Linked DNA regions of Homo sapiens. The protein of the gene in region 1 purifies or fractionates together with the protein of each later gene. This does not show direct contact. Each region holds a gene or a part of one and is shown on either strand. Other genes may lie near its edges. The genes, in order: CAMSAP3 and WWC1.

Region 1 (3,809 bases):
GGGCGTCTCCTCCGCCAGGAGGATGGAAGAGCGCGTCTGCACGGGCACCTGGCTCGGCGAGAACTTGCGCAGGTGGGGGAGGCTGTCTACGTCGTGGGGTGGCGTAAGCACCCTGGTCAAGGGTGCCAGCCGCAGCTCCGCTGGCCGCGTGTGTTTCGGGCTGCGGGGTGACTGGCTGGGCCCGGGCCCAGGGCTGCGCCGGGTGGCCGGGACTCGCCGGGCGGGGCTGGGGGATGCAGCTTTGGGCCCCGTCGTGGGGCCAGGGATGACCCACGCAGCAGGTGGTGGGGCGGATCCGGGGGCCTCGGGCGGGGCCAGGAGCCGCTGCTGCTGGTCCGTGAGCCTCTGCATGTCCCGCTGCAGCGAGCTCAAGGCGGCACTCAGCTTGCTGACCGCTCGATTGTATTCCCCCAGCCCCTCGTGGGGCACCGGGCCCAGGTCTGGCGAGAAGGTCACTGCCTTGGGCCGTGAGGTTGGCTCACCCTGGCCCTCGCCTGCGGGCCGCTCCCCACCAGGGACTGGACCGGAATCGGCCTCCTCCGCCTCTGCTTCCGCCTCCCCAGAGGCTTCCCGCGGCTGCACCTGCAGGAAGGCGCTTTTGCCCAGCCGCTGGCGGTGCTTGGCGAATATGGCCTCAATCCGTCGCTTCTGAGCCTCGATGGCTCTGCGTTTCTCCTCCAGCCGGGCGCTGAGCTCACTCATCTCCGAGCTCAGGGCCTCCGGCGGGGCCGGAGTGGACGTGGGGGACCCCGCTCCGGCCTCAGCCTCTGCCTTCACCAGCTGTTTCTTGCGTTCTGCAAAGCTGGTCATTTTCACCTCGGAGTTGGTGGCTGCTGGGGACGAAGCCACCGCCTTCGGGGACCCCTCGGATGGGGCTGGCGGTTTCGATGCCTCCCCCACCAGACAGGGAGATGGTTTCGAGGGGGTCTCGGGGTGTGGCATGTACACTGGTGCTTTGGTGGGCCTGTCGGACAGTGGTTTGGAGGTCCCCTCGGGCAGGTAGGGGGAGGCCAGGGATGGCTTGGAGGGCCCCTCAGGGGAGTGGAGGTAGAAGCTGCCGTCGGCCGCCCCATCTGGGAGGAGCCGGGGCTCGGCACTGTGGATGATCTGCAGAGCTTCCTCGATGGTGGGCAGGTCACCAGGCTCCGGGGGTGGCTGGGTGGGGGTCCTGGCCGGCGCGGGACGCGGGGGGCCCAGGCTGTCCGAGCTCACAGAGCGGAGGAGCACAGGGTCTCCCATGACGACATCCACGTCGCTGTCCAGGCCAAAGGGGGTGCTGAATGACACAGCCTGGGAGAGGGGACGGCTGGGCGGCCGGAGGGAGGGGTCAGCCCCTGGGACCAGCCTCGGCCCCAACCCGCCCTAGCCTGCTCCACCCCCTACCCTGGCCTGTGAGGTCTACTCACCTGAGCTGCCGGTTCCAGGCCTTGCCCAGGGCCTCCATATGGGACATGGACGGGGAAGACTTCAGGGAGCCTGGGGGAGGCGATGAGTGGTCACTATGGGGACCCTGGGAACCCTGAGTGGGGTCAGCCAGCATCTGGGGACAACCTCTGCAAGGTCATTGGGTGAGTCACTGATGGCTCATTATGTGGTCTAGTGAGACCAGAGGTTTCCAGAAACAGATACCCGGGGCCATTTACTGTCACTACGGGGTACTGTGGGGCCACTGGGGAGGCCATTCTGGGGGTCACTTTGGGATGCCCAAGGGGGATCTGATGGAGAGGCTATTGGAAGGCTCACGAGGAGACAACATGAGGCCCACTGGGGCAGTCTGTGAGTGGGGGGGTCCCCCGTGACAGAAGCCACCTACCCCCTCCTCACCTGTGGATCCTCGGAGTGGGGACTGGGGGCCACCAGATGACAGAAGCGGGTGGCGGAAGGTGAAGACAGGAGAACTGTACGGAGAGACGTACTTCAGCCTCAGGACCCCCACCTCCTCCTCCGCCTCTCCCCGGGGGGAGACAACAGCATCACCCAGCTGCGTCCCAGTGCTCAGCAAGGCAGACATGGAGCCCCACACCCACAATGCCAGAGACTCGCCCAGTGTGGGGAGCGTACCTACTGCCGCTGTTGTTCTGAGGTGGGGAGGCCTCAGTGCCCCGGGGGGAGGCAGCTGCAGTACAGAGAAGAGGGTCAGGCGGGGGTTTGGCTCTCCCACCCGCCCCCGACCCGGCCCCCAGGCCCCCAGGGCCTCACCGTGACCATCGGGCAAGTCCTTCACTTGCACAAAGTCGGGCTTGAGCACCTCAAAACACATGAACAACTCGGCCAGCATCACCACCAAGTTGACCTGGAGGTGGGAGGCCGGGTCAGCAGACGGGACCCCTGGCCCCAGATGCCCGCCTCGGCCCAGGAGGCCCCAGGATGGCCTTACCTTGAGTGGCGGTGGGACGTACAGCAAGTCCTCAAGGGACAGGGGGCAGCCACGAGGAAGGCGAGAGGCACAGAAATCCTGCACGAGCTGGAGGTTGTACAGGCTGTCCGCCACAGACATGGGGTCCTTCAAGCACACCTCTGTGGGGACAGGAGGAGTGGGTCCCCAACTCTATGAGGAGGAGGATGGGGCCCCAGGGAAGCCAGGGACCAGCAGTCCCCCACACACGGAAGACCTCCTATGAGCCCAGCTTCTGCCAGGTGCCCTTCGAGAGGTGAATTCTTTTTTTTTTTTTTTTGAGATGGAGTCTCGCTCTGTCACCCAGGCTGTAGTGCAGTGGCGCAATCCCAGCTCACTGCAACCTCTGCCTCCCGGGTTCAAGTGATTCTCCCACCTCAGCCTCCTGAGTAGCTGGGATTACAGGAGTGTGCCACAACACCAGGCTAATTTTTTGTGGTTTTAGTAGAGATGGGGTTTCACCGTGTTAGCCAGGATGGTCTCGATCTCCTGACTTCATGATCCGGCCGCCTCAGCCACCCAAAGTGCTGGGATTACAGGCGTGAGCCACTGTACCCGGCCGAGGTGAATTATATGATAGACCGTCCTTAGGCCGGGGGTCCTTAACCCCCGGGGCGTGGCCTGTCAGGAACTGAACCGTACAGCAGGTGAGCTGCAGTGAGTGTATTTACAGCCGCTCCCCGTCACTTGCAGGACCACCCGAACCCCGCTTCCGTCAGATCAGCGGCGGCATTCGATTCTTACAGGAGCGCGAACCCTATTGTGAACCTGGCGTGTGAGGGATCTAGGTTGCACCCTCCTTATGAAAATCGAATGCCTGATGATCTGTCACTGTCTCTCATCACCCCCAGCTGGGACCGTCTAGTTGCAGGAACAAGCTCAGGGCTCCCACTGGTTCCCCATGATGATGAGTTGTAGAATTATTTCATTCTATGTTACAACGTATTAGATATAAAGTACATAATAAAGATTAACGTGCTTGAATTATCCCAAGACCACCTCCCTGCCTCCATCTGTGGAAAAATTGTCTTCCACAAAACCGGTCCCTGGAGCCAAAAAGTTGGTGACTATTGCCTTAGGCCTTTGCATCTTTCTAGAACACTCTCCCCCAAGACCTCAGCTCAAAAAGCTTTTCCGGGCCAGGTGTGGTGGCTCACACCTGTAATCTTAGCACTTGGGGAGGCTGAGGTGGGAGGATGTTTGAGCCCAGGGATTCAAGACCAGCTTGGGCAACATAGCAAGACCCCATCTCTATTTTATACTTTTTTTTTTTTTTTTTTGAGATGGAGTCTCGCTCTGTTGCCCAGGCTAGAGTGCAATGGCATGGTCTTGACTCACTGCAACCTCCACTTCCTGGGTTCAAGCGATTCTCCTGCCTCAGCCTCCTGTGTAGCTGGGATTACAGGCGCCCGCC
Region 2 (3,809 bases), on another chromosome or scaffold:
TATCCAAGTTTTACAAATGAGGCATCTGAGGCTTAACAGGATTAAGTCAGTATCTCAAGGTCATGAAGCAGTGAGTGGTGGAGCCGGATTTGAATCCAGGCAGTTCGACTCAAGAGCCTGGGATGGTAAAACACAAAATCACATGTGACTCCTTCCATCACCCTAAAGCAAACTTTTTTTTAATTTTTTTTTTTTTTTTTTTTTTTTGCTTTAGCATTTAGAGGTGGTTGGAATTTGGTGGAACCGTCTGTCTTCCATAGAGAGTGTATCAAAATTGGGAGTTCAGGCTCCCCGAATCCCAAAGTGTTGGGATTACAGTCGCTGACGCCTGTAATCCCAACACTTTGGAAGGCCAAAGCAGGCAGATCGCCTAAGACCAGGAGTTCAAGACCAGCCTGGGCAATATGGCAAAACCCCATCTCTACAACAAAATAATAATTCAAAAATTAGCTGGGTATGGTGGCACATGCCTGTAGTTCCAGTATTTGGGAGGCGGAGGTGGGAGGATCACCAGAACCCGAAGTGGTCGAGGCTGCAGTGAGCCATGATTGTGCCACTGCACTCCAGCCTGGATGAGTGAGACCCTGCCTCAAAAACAAAACAAAATTGGGAGTCGCAAAGGCAGTTTCCTGGTTCCTGAACCTGCCTTTCCATTTTCCTTCCCTAGCTGTGAATACGGCCCAGGGGTGTGGCCTGAAAGTGGCCTGTGTCTCAGCCGCCGTATCGGACGAGTCAGTGGCTGGAGACAGTGGTGTGTACGAGGCTTCCGTGCAGAGGTAGGTGTCTGGGTGCTGGCTCTCTCTGTGGCCCTGTAAGCCATGAACTCTGAATATCCAGAGCCTAGGCCTGTGGAGAGGCTTAGGTTTTGGCCCCCACAGTGTGTGGGAGGAGCCCCAAGAGGGCATGACCCCACCTTCCTCTTGGCTGCCCAAGGCACAGACAGCATAACTTTTCCTGGGGTTAGAGATGCTTCAGGTTTGGGGGAGTGCTAGTTCTGTGGTAGCTACGAAAAAGGTATATGGCTAAGGAGCAAGCACTAGAGAAAGGGAAGGCCCCTTAAGAGAGGAGTCCAAGCTGGGCATAGTGGTGTGAGTCTGTAATCCCAGCTACTTGGGAGGCTTCAGTGGGAGGATCACTTGATACAAGGAGTTCGAGACCAGCCTGGGCAACATAGTGAGCCCCCATCTCTAAAAAAAATTTTTTTTAATTAAAATTTAAAAAAGGACCTGAAGGGAAGCTGAGCAAACCCCAACTTTCCTTCCTGGGGATGTAACCTCAGCCTCCCAGAATAGTTTGTTCACTGTAGGGAAGCCTAACTCCTCCTCCCCTGTTGCCTTTCAGACTGGGTGCTTCAGAAGCTGCTGCATTTGACAGTGACGAATCGGAAGCAGTGGGTGCGACCCGAATTCAGATTGCCCTGAAGTAAGTGACGAGGACGAGGAGGACAGAAGGAACGGTCTGTGTGGGGTCCCTTCTTCATCCACAGCGTTCCCCAGCATTTACCTTCACAGCCGCCCAGGGTGGAAGGCAGCACCAGCAGGACCTGCTGGCCATTGCAGCTTCTTAACTGAAGGGATGCTGATTCGTTCCTCACCTCCCAGCCATCCGCTTTACAGATAGGAGAAATGAGGTTGGAGAAATGGGGTTTTAAAAGACCTTATGACTTGGCCCAACTCACTGAGCTGGCTGGTAGCAGAGCCAGGACTGGGACTGAGACCTCCTGCCTCTCAGTGTGTTTGTTCATTGTTGCTGTGGCTTTTGTCTTTCCATCCCATCTAGGTTTCATTGATCTGGATGGAAGTTGATCACTGGGGGCTGCAGCCCAGATTGGGTCAATACACACATGGTTGTTCTTTTTGTTTTCTTTTGTTGGGGGATGATATGATCTCAATTTTTTTTTTTTTTTTTTTTTGAGACAGGGTCTCACCTGTCACCCAGGCTGGAGTGCAGTGGTGTGATCTCAGCTCGCTGCAACCTCTGCCTCCTGGGTTCAAGCGATTCTCCTGCCTCAGCCTCCCAAGTAGCTGGGATTACAGGTGTGTGCCACCACGCCCGGCTAACTTTTGTATTTTTAATAGAGATGGAGTTTCACCATGTTGGCCAGGCTAGTCTCAAACTCCTGACCTCAAATGATCTGCCCGCCTTGGCCTCCCAAAGTGCTGAGATTACAGGCATGAGCCACCACACCTGGCCTTCAATATTTTTTAATAGGAATTAGTTGACAACATTTCCATATCATGAAATTTCACCCGCATTTATGGGTTCTTTTTAAAAATTCAGACAACTGGCTGGGTGTGGTGGCTCACACCTTTAATCCTGACACTTTGGGAGGCTGAGGCAGAGGAATCACTTGATTCCAGGAGTTCAGGACCAGCCCAGGCAACATGATGAAACCCCATCTCTACTAAAAATACACAAAATTAGCTGGGTGTGGTGGTGAACACCTGTAGTCCTAGCTACTTGAGAGGCTGAGGTGGGAGGATCACCTGAGCCTGGGAGGTCGAGGCTACCATGAGCCCCGATCATGCCACTGCACTCAACCTGGATGACAGAGTGAGACCCTGTTTCAAAACAAAAAAAAAATTTTCAAACAATTGGCAGCTCTAGCTCTACATCCCTGCATGGCAGCAAAGCACTGGGCCTGTGCTCTAGAGCTCACCATAGGCCCCAGGGCAGCCAACAGCCACGTCCTGTGACTTTTAATGGAGAGAAGGAATGAGAGAGATGAGTGTGTTACTAATAGGTACTTCATATGCCCCTTTTCATTTCAGGTATGATGAGAAGAATAAGCAATTTGCAATATTAATCATCCAGCTGAGTAACCTTTCTGCTCTGTTGCAGCAACAAGACCAGAAAGTGTGAGTATGTAGCTGGACAGGTGTATTTCATACCCTAACCCTCTGGAGTTACCCCTGGGGGTCACTTTTCTGCCCTGTCCTGATCCAGTTATGGGCCTTGTCAAGGCACTGTGGGTTTGTACTGCATATGACTGTGATGCTGAATGTCGGTGCTGTGCATGTGAATACAGGCACAACGGCAAGCACACCAACTGTAAAGACAAGCACTCTCTAGATGACTGTGTGAATTCCTGCCCCATTACGTGCTGAGCACCTGCTGCATGCCAGCTCTAGGAATGGGGTGGTGAGCAGATCCTTCCTGGGCCCTACCCTCCTGGACTTTGAGCCTCATGGAGAAGAATGGTCACAGTCTGTTTTATCTTCTCCTAAGCTCAAGTGTTTCTTGCAGAGAGAGATAGGTCTTCTGTTTCCAAGAGTCAACACCAGTCACTGCTTCTCTTGGAGGGGTGTGACTGCGTGTTACCTTGATGCTGGTAGGATGCAAACACCTGCTCTGTCTGCCTGTGGGCTCCTCCCATGGTAGATGGGTTTATCCTTTATTGCACTCATCTGCCTCCAAGTTTTCTCTGATCGTAAGGCCTGGAGGGTGGCAACAGAAGCTTATGTGTCTGTGGTCTACACTCAGCCAGCCTGTGAGGGTGGCACATGTGGGAAGAAGAAAGGGCAGGAAGGCGGACAAAACGGAAGGAAGACAAGATGGGATGCTTGGGTCAATTTCAGTCTTCTGCCCACACAGACAGTGCCAGGCTGAATAGCCTCCTCCATAGCTCACTGGTACTCATGCAGGGGCATCTGTGGGATAATGCCTAGAAGTGAAGGGTCTGGACCAAAGGACAAATGCATCTGGAATTTTGTTCGATTTGTCAAAGTTCCTTCCAGTGTATAGGGGCCTGATTCCCCAGATTCCTCACTTCTACAAACTCTCATCCACTGTTGTTTGCTTAGGGATTT

Evidence for each region.
Region 2: the proteins of CAMSAP3 (region 1) and WWC1 purify together in Homo sapiens (co-immunoprecipitation; one large-scale study listed by IntAct). This does not show direct contact.

Annotation. Positions count from the first base shown.
Region 1 is NC_000019.10:7,609,184-7,612,992, reverse strand, and holds part of CAMSAP3 (calmodulin-regulated spectrin-associated protein 3), read right to left. Parts: intron 2,518-3,809; coding exon 2,378-2,517; intron 2,294-2,377; coding exon 2,200-2,293; intron 2,117-2,199; coding exon 2,062-2,116; intron 1,899-2,061; coding exon 1,825-1,898; intron 1,477-1,824; coding exon 1,407-1,476; intron 1,307-1,406; coding exon 1-1,306. UniProt on the Homo sapiens protein: Key microtubule-organizing protein that specifically binds the minus-end of non-centrosomal microtubules and regulates their dynamics and organization.
Region 2 is NC_000005.10:168,427,366-168,431,174, forward strand, and holds part of WWC1 (protein KIBRA), read left to right. Parts: intron 1-667; coding exon 668-776; intron 777-1,341; coding exon 1,342-1,422; intron 1,423-2,771; coding exon 2,772-2,858; intron 2,859-3,809. UniProt on the Homo sapiens protein: Regulator of the Hippo signaling pathway, also known as the Salvador-Warts-Hippo (SWH) pathway.